2 linked regions of the Homo sapiens genome follow. The protein of the gene in region 1 interacts with the protein of each later gene in a pairwise test. Each region holds a gene or a part of one and is shown on either strand. Other genes may lie near its edges. The genes, in order: NELL1 and ATXN7.

The links.
Region 2: the proteins of NELL1 (region 1) and ATXN7 interact in a two-hybrid assay, tested with the Homo sapiens proteins (one study listed by BioGRID and IntAct).

Annotation. Positions count from the first base shown.
Region 1 is NC_000011.10:20,924,583-20,928,405, reverse strand, and holds part of NELL1 (protein kinase C-binding protein NELL1 isoform 1 precursor), read right to left. Parts: intron 1,694-3,823; exon of another isoform or gene 1,610-1,693; intron 1,099-1,609; coding exon 964-1,098; intron 30-963; coding exon 1-29. UniProt on the Homo sapiens protein: Plays a role in the control of cell growth and differentiation. Promotes osteoblast cell differentiation and terminal mineralization.
Region 2 is NC_000003.12:63,982,163-63,985,985, reverse strand, and holds part of ATXN7 (ataxin-7), read right to left. Parts: intron 3,801-3,823; coding exon 3,541-3,800; intron 3,048-3,540; coding exon 2,965-3,047; intron 1-2,964. UniProt on the Homo sapiens protein: Acts as a component of the SAGA (aka STAGA) transcription coactivator-HAT complex. Mediates the interaction of SAGA complex with the CRX and is involved in CRX-dependent gene activation.

The sequences.
Region 1 (3,823 bases):
GACATCCTTCGGCATTCCACGGCACCACTCTGAGGAAGGAAGGACATGGAACATAATCTCAGAAGTATCCTTTGATAGCTCCTGTTGTGGAGATCATTGAAATCTCATCCCAGAAACCTCATCAGGGAAACAGAAGCAGTATTCGAATTCCCAGTCCACTCCAGGACCACAGATGAAGTGTTTTCTCCGGCCCGAATGACCTGTACCACCTCAATTACTTTTCTGAAATACATCACTGGTTTCATCCTACCTGCCCATGTGTGCTAACTAGATTATGCAGAAAACAAAAAGTCTATTTTTATAAGAACATAAATAACACATTTGCAGACTCTGTCAATCATTTCTGAGGCTCTAACAATCTGTTTTGTATTTTCCTAGACAAACAATGGCATTCTTCAGATATTTATCAAGTAATTTCAACTGGACAGGGTTTCCATACTAATTTTTGGAGGGGGATGTTGTAATTCACTGAAACAGATGAAGGGATATACAAATAATGGATATCCTCACACTGACAGTGAGTCAGGGAGGAAATGCCTTGCAATTATTTGAAACAGGTGATGGATACACTTTGCAAAAGACAATAAAAACATGTAGAAAATAATTAAACTCCCCTTTTAAAGTTATTCTGGTTGTGAATAAGGATAACCATTAGGTTGTTTGAAAATCAAAGGAGTCCCTTCTTTCCACTATATCCCAACCTTCAAACTCCAAACATTGCCTATTAAATCAAATTAGGGTGTGTTGGCAAGGGAAAGCAGATTTTAATTTCCAAGTATTCATATAAGACATGACACTCTTCCAGCATTGCTTCACAATTGCTCGTATGGCTAGTGGGTGCTAGGTAAAAACCTAACAATTCTCAGAGTTAATATTATTTATTAAAGAACCAGGTTACACTCTAATTATCAAACCTCTCCCCTTAAAACTGTTTTTACTGTATTTATTTACAAAGAGGCTTACTTTGCAAGTGCAGTTCCTGCAATGGTCACCATCTACCCAAGAGTCTTGATCTCGATAGAGCAGTCCACTCACTTGACAAGTCTTCTCACAATGACAGTTTTCCAATTGACTAAGTCTTGTCTCTGCATAATTTAGCTGCAAACAAGAGTTACTGAATGTAATTTCTGTAATTCAATTGCATCATCCTAACAAAGCTAATAGCAACAAGAAAAAAAATCCTTCTGAGAAGAGAAAAAAATGCTCAGAGCAGTTCACTGATTCTTAGCATTATCTGTTTTTTGTTTTTTTTATTTTTTTTACACAAGGTGGAATCACTCTAAATTGAAGAAATATTGGCTGTCATGGTCTAATGAATACCAAATGAGACATTAAACTGTAACTCAGGAACCTCATGGGTGTTCATAAATGTGTGTGCTTTCCATTCAAGCCCACACAAAAACACTCATAATGAATGTGTTCTCAAGGACTCATTATGATGTTTACAGGCGATCTAATCAGGAACTCCGAGGCACTTACATTTATCTCCCACTATCCTCTCTATGTTCTTCACACACTAACTAGAATGTCGTGGTTTACAAACTAGGAAGTCACTGCCTTCTGTCTGATGAAAAATTCTGGAGAGCTGGGGTCAGAAAAAAAGAAAAGTCGTAAGCGGATCCCCCAAACAGAATGCCCCAGGAATTCACTTTTGTGCTTAGAAGAAGGACAGGAAAAGTAACCAAAACCCCAGGTAAGATCAGAATTTTGTAAAATAACCTTTTTTATTTTTCTAGGCCACCCAGTCATTGCCAATAATCACAGAGTCTTAGACTCTCCTGCTGGAAAGGGATTATAAAGCTTGAATATCCTCACAAGAAACCTCAAGTGATTATCTAGCCTTTGTACATCTCCAGTGGAGGAACATGTATTATCTTCCAAGGAAAGCCACTTTTCTCAGTTAGCTCTCTTGTTTGAAACATTTTTCATGGTTTTGGCTGTGAAATCTTTCTTTTTTTCCTGCCATACCTAGGTTTTCATTGTAATCCATCCTGAGCAAACCTAATCTTCAAGCATTTGAGGTTATCCTGTCGTCTTGACCACACTTGGCACCACCAGGTTCCCTTAACAGCTCCTCATGATATGATTCCAAGCCTCTCTTCTGATCACTTTTCATACAGCCTACTCCAGTTTACCTTCAAAAATATGGTGCAAAAAAACCCTAAATACAGCACTTTGATATGATCTGTCTACTGTCACATCCACACGAAAGAGTAACTCAACCTAGTAGTGATATTACTCTTCCTTTCCTTTCCCTTACATAGAGACCACCATGATTGAAAAACAAGTATCGTTTCCTAGAAAATTATCTGAGTTTCTCTTTTCCTTCTCAATCATGTTTATCCTTTCATGTCTTAAGTACTTTCCCCATACAGGAGATCAATTCAACCTTTGATCTAACTAAGATTATTTTGAGCCACTATTTTAGACATAATAGATAAACCTAGGGAATGACTTCCACCATCTTTCTACATTAACTATGGTTCCATTTCATACACCTTCCTCTGACTTACTCATACCAGAACTACTCTCTGGAAATGGAATCCACATGTAATTCTAACCTTTGTTTTTGTCATTTATTTCATCCTCTTCCTCCAAGCTTTTGGAATTTCTCAAGAAAATTTACCCCTTGTCTGCCTTTTGTGGGTGGTAGCAAAGGGTAGAAAAAACAAAAAATAGGATCTTAGACCAACCACCATGCACCATGAGCAGCCCCTAAAGAACTAAGAGTTGACGCTGCCTGAAATATTAGCTTCCTATCACTCCTTCTAATATGCATGATCTTCTAAAAATCCATGTTTCATTTAAAACTCCAGCCTAGGTCAAGTGCAGTGACTCACACCTATAATCCCAGCACTTTGGGAGGCCAAGACGAGCAGATGACCCAAGGTCAGGAGTTTGAGACCAACCCAGCCAACATGGCGAAACCCTGTCTCCACTACAAATACAAAAAAAAAAAAAAAAAAAGCCGGGTGTGGTAGCGGGTACCACCAGCTACTCTGGAGGCTGAGACATGAGAATCTCTTGAACCTGGGAGGCAGAGGTTGCAGCAGGCCAAGATCATGCCAGTGCACTCCAGCCTGGGCAACAGAGCGATACTCCATCTCAATAAATAAATAAATTAATACAACAAAACTCCAGCCTAATCATAGAGTTTATAGAATCTATGATAATTAAGTTATTTGGCAATGCTTTAGGAAACGGATAAAATACACTGCTGAGTTTGGTGATACTCTTGGACACTGAGGGATGATGGCATATGGTTTGGCCACTTGCAGATACCAAAATCTGAAAATCTTCAAGTCCTTTATATAAAATAGTATAGTTTGCATATAACGTATGCACATCCTCCTATACACTTTAAGTCATCTCTAGATAACTTATAATAAGTAATACAATGTCTAAACATCAATTCATTCACATGGATTCAATGCAGTACTCGGTACATGGAAAATTCAAGTTTTACTCTCTGTAACTTTTTGGAATTTTTTTCTGAGTATTGTTGGTCCATGGTTGGTTGAATCCACAGATGTGGAACCTCAATAGAAAGAAAGTAACAACTTATCACTTATCTTTACTTCATTTCCATAGCCCCAGTAGTTCCTACACAAGGCAGTAACAGATATATGACCTTGGATTGAACAACAGAGTTGAACCAGATCTGCATTCCTCCTAAAAGGGTCTCAGAATTGTGTACCTTTGTGAGAGGACCCATACGTGCCTTACTCTGAAAATCTGGAACAATTCTGGTGTCTATATCACTCCAAGAAGGGAACTTCTTAAGGACTAAATGGCCCAAAAGGCAACTCTATATCTATCTGAG
Region 2 (3,823 bases), on another chromosome or scaffold:
TCATCTTTTTATAACTCATCAGTGGTAATTTTACAGTTATTTTGGTGATTAATACTCTCCATCTCTTTCATTAGACTGTAAGCACCACAAGCATAGGGAACACGTGGTTATTGTGCTAAACCCTTTATTCCCTGCGACCTAGAAAGAGTGAGGCCTGTGCTCACAGATGTACGTAATAAAAAGTTCTACAATGAGTGAATGGACAAAGGCTACAGGAGTCACAAATCTCTCCGCGTGGAAGGCACAGAGGACTTTCGACGGGATATTAGACAGATGAAGAAGTGAGGAGGGGCAGTGAGGATGGGAGACAGACAACAGAGAATGAGTAATGGGAATGAACAGCAGCAAATCCCCTGACGGTGAAGAGAACAGATAACGTTCTAAGTCTAAGACAGAAGAGACCTGGCAGCAACTTGGGAAACACTCAGGGTAGGGACATGCAGGCATGTTTAGCCCTACCAAGCTTAATAGATTCAGACCAACGTGAAGGCAAGGAAAAGGAAAAGAACTGACAAAACAATGAAAAAAAGTCAAGTCATCCTGTAAAAGGGCAGGCCTGGTGGATGCTGCATTTTCTGCCAGTTCTATGCTGATCTCATGACAAGCTGGGTCTCAAGACTTATTAATGCAATGACAGGCTTAGCCCAATGCCACGGAGAGTAATGACACCCTTAAAGAAGGACGACAAGGGGAGCATATATCATTTGAAAAGGAAGATGTGAGAAAAATGCAGACCCATTCAAAGTCACTCCACCTAGCAATAAAGGCACAGGAAGAATGCCAGTCAAGCTCCTTGAAGATTTTGAGTTGAAAAAAAACTTTTGGCAACCTCACTTCTGGGTAGTTATCCAAAATAACTGAAATCAGAATCTCAAAGAGCTATTAGAACTCCTATGTTCACTGAAGTATTATTTATAATAGACAAGATGTAGAAACAATATAAATGTCTGTCAACAGGTGACTGGATGAAGACAACATAGTATATACATACACTGGAATACTATTCAGCCCTTAAAAAGAAGGAAATTCTGCAATATGCTACAACAAGTATGAGGTAAGCTTGAAGACATTATACTAAGATAAATAACCCAGTCACATAATGACTAAACACCGCATGATTCCACTTATATGAGATCTATAATCAAACTCACAGAATCAACAACTAGAGTGGTGGCTGCCAGCGGCTGAAGGGAGAGCGAAATAAGGAGTTACTAATCAATGAGCATAAAGTTTCAGTTATAGCAAGATGAACAAGTTCTAGACATCTGCTGTATAATATTCTTTCACAGTCAACAATACTGTCTTGCACACTTAAAGGTGTGGTTCCCTGCCACGCTTTGTAAATGACTGAAAAAGAACATCTTGGGTTTGAAAAAAGCAAACCTCATTGCCCACAGGTACTGTATTACTGAGAAATCCATGTTACTGAGAGTCAGGTAGGCAGGAAGAGCGCAGAAGGAGAATGGCAAGTTGTGATCATGATGTGGACAGGGCTGAGGCATGCTTTCACACATTCTCTTAGGGACAGCTGAAACTGACATAATTCTACAGAACTCAGGTGGCTATCTTCATACACCACCACCACTACACCACTGTGTGTCCAATTAGTACCCTATACAAAAAAAAAGCAGTTTGTTTTATGAGAGTTTTTAACCTAGAAATCCAAGGATGGGCTTGGGGTGGGGGTGTCCATTAATCCAAGATAGAAAAATTCAGAATGTGTATGTGTATGCACTATTTTATTCTCGGAAGATGGACCGTGGTTTTTTTTTTTTAAAAATGAGATATTTAAAGGTACTCTTGACCAACCCTTTTCCCCAAAAAGGTTCTGAACCACTGTTGTAAGACAAAATCTATATACTAAAATTAAATTAGAAGCTTAAAGTAAGAACCACTTAAAAATTTCCCACTCCAGAAGACTGTAACATGCCTCCACTGGCTGGGGCATGGGACAGGGCCTGAAGTCCTTTATTCAAATACACTTTAATAAAATTTAAAGTAAAACACTAACAATTTTATTAATTTTTAGAAGAAAATGCTAACTTTTATCATTTTTACTTCCTCCCTCTAAGGTTTTAAAATTACATACTTCAAAGCAGTGACTCTGAATGCTTCTTGAACCTATCTGGGGGGTAGCTGGGGACACCCTCCAGAGAAATGCACATCAACATACAAGCTCATTTATGTAGAGGTGTTCACTGATGACCTGAAGCCACCCCACATCAATAACCCACACTTTTCAGCAAATATACCTTATTAGCATACTGGCATTTTAAAAGAAGGAAGACCCCAGAGCAAAAAGGAAGACCATTACATTTTCTTAGCTTGTATATAAATTATTAATATATTTTATCTAGTTTTTTTTTTCTCTTAAAAGAGATGGGTCTCGTAATGTTCTCCAGGCTGGACTCAAACTCCTAGGCTCAAGCAATCCTTCTGCCTCAGCCTCCCCACTAGCTGGGACTTACAGGCATGCCTGGCTTGCAGTATTTTTTTTTTAAACTAGAAAACAGGGATATTTCAAAATCACAGATTTTTTAAAAAGTGGTTCTTTAAAATTTAAGACCATGGGTGACACATTTTTTAAATGTTCATACACACGCAAGGGAAATTTCTGCACTTGCTTTAAGCCAGTATAATTTAAAGCACAGTCAAGGGTAGCCTATATGGAAATATTAAAAGTTTTTAAAAATAACAGACTGGGAGAGAACACTATTCCTGTGGATACAACACTGCTCATTAGAAACAAAACCTCTGTCAAGATTATAATTTATAACAACGCACTTCACATTTTGTCAATCTGAGGCTTTCTTCAACAGAACCAAGTTATTCCTTCACCTACACAATTCACAACAATCCACAGAGCATCTTCTCTGGGTTAGAGAGACTGTGGGAGTAGTGTGGTACATCCCAGTCACCCATGTTTATCAGGATGGTCGACTTGACTTTCAGGAGTCCACCTACCTTGCATGTCAAAGACCGGGTGCAGGGCTTCTTGGTGTCGAGATCAATAACCCCACAGTGGATGTCAGGATCAAACTCTCTTTCTGTCAAAAGAACACAGGCATTACATGTGGCCTGACAAACTCTCCTCCATGTATTTTTTAAGCAAGAAAATAGAAGAAATCAACAGTTAGATAAATTATAGCTGGAATAAAAGCCACATTATCAATAAAATAAAAAATATACAACGTGTGAGTGCTGCAACAAAGCAGCAACATCACTAAGACAGGGGGTGACTACTGCCATCAGATGGTAGAAAAGATATTGTTTAAGTCTGTATTACTTCCTTCAGAAATACACCACTAGAAAGCTACTTTTACATGACACACACACACACACACACACACACACACACACACTCATGCTCTTTAAAACCCAAGAGTGAAAAGAACAAACATATTAACTAAGGAACTTCCTCCTAAAGCTGAAGTTGACCAGTTTTAAAAATAGGAATTCTAGATTGCAGTTGATTTGCTCCCCACGAATGCCCATTTAATATATAGAGAAGCATTATGAAGAAAGAAAATTTGAAGTTACCTGATAATCTCTTATTTAAAAATTTCCTATTATTGGAATTGTCTTCAGGTTTCTTTTCCAGAGTGGGCGGTGCAGGAAGCCCTTTGCCATTCAGAATCTGTCCAGGTGAAGGCAAGGTTGGCTTTGGTATTGAGGGGCAGTTAAGGCCAGGCTTGACTAAGGAACTCACAGTAGCAGGACAGGTTGGCCCCACCGCAGATTTCAGTAGTGTGCCATCCATTTTCGGATGAATCTTTTCCACTTTCACAGAGGGTGTCATGCTGTCACAGGAGGAAGTGAGAAA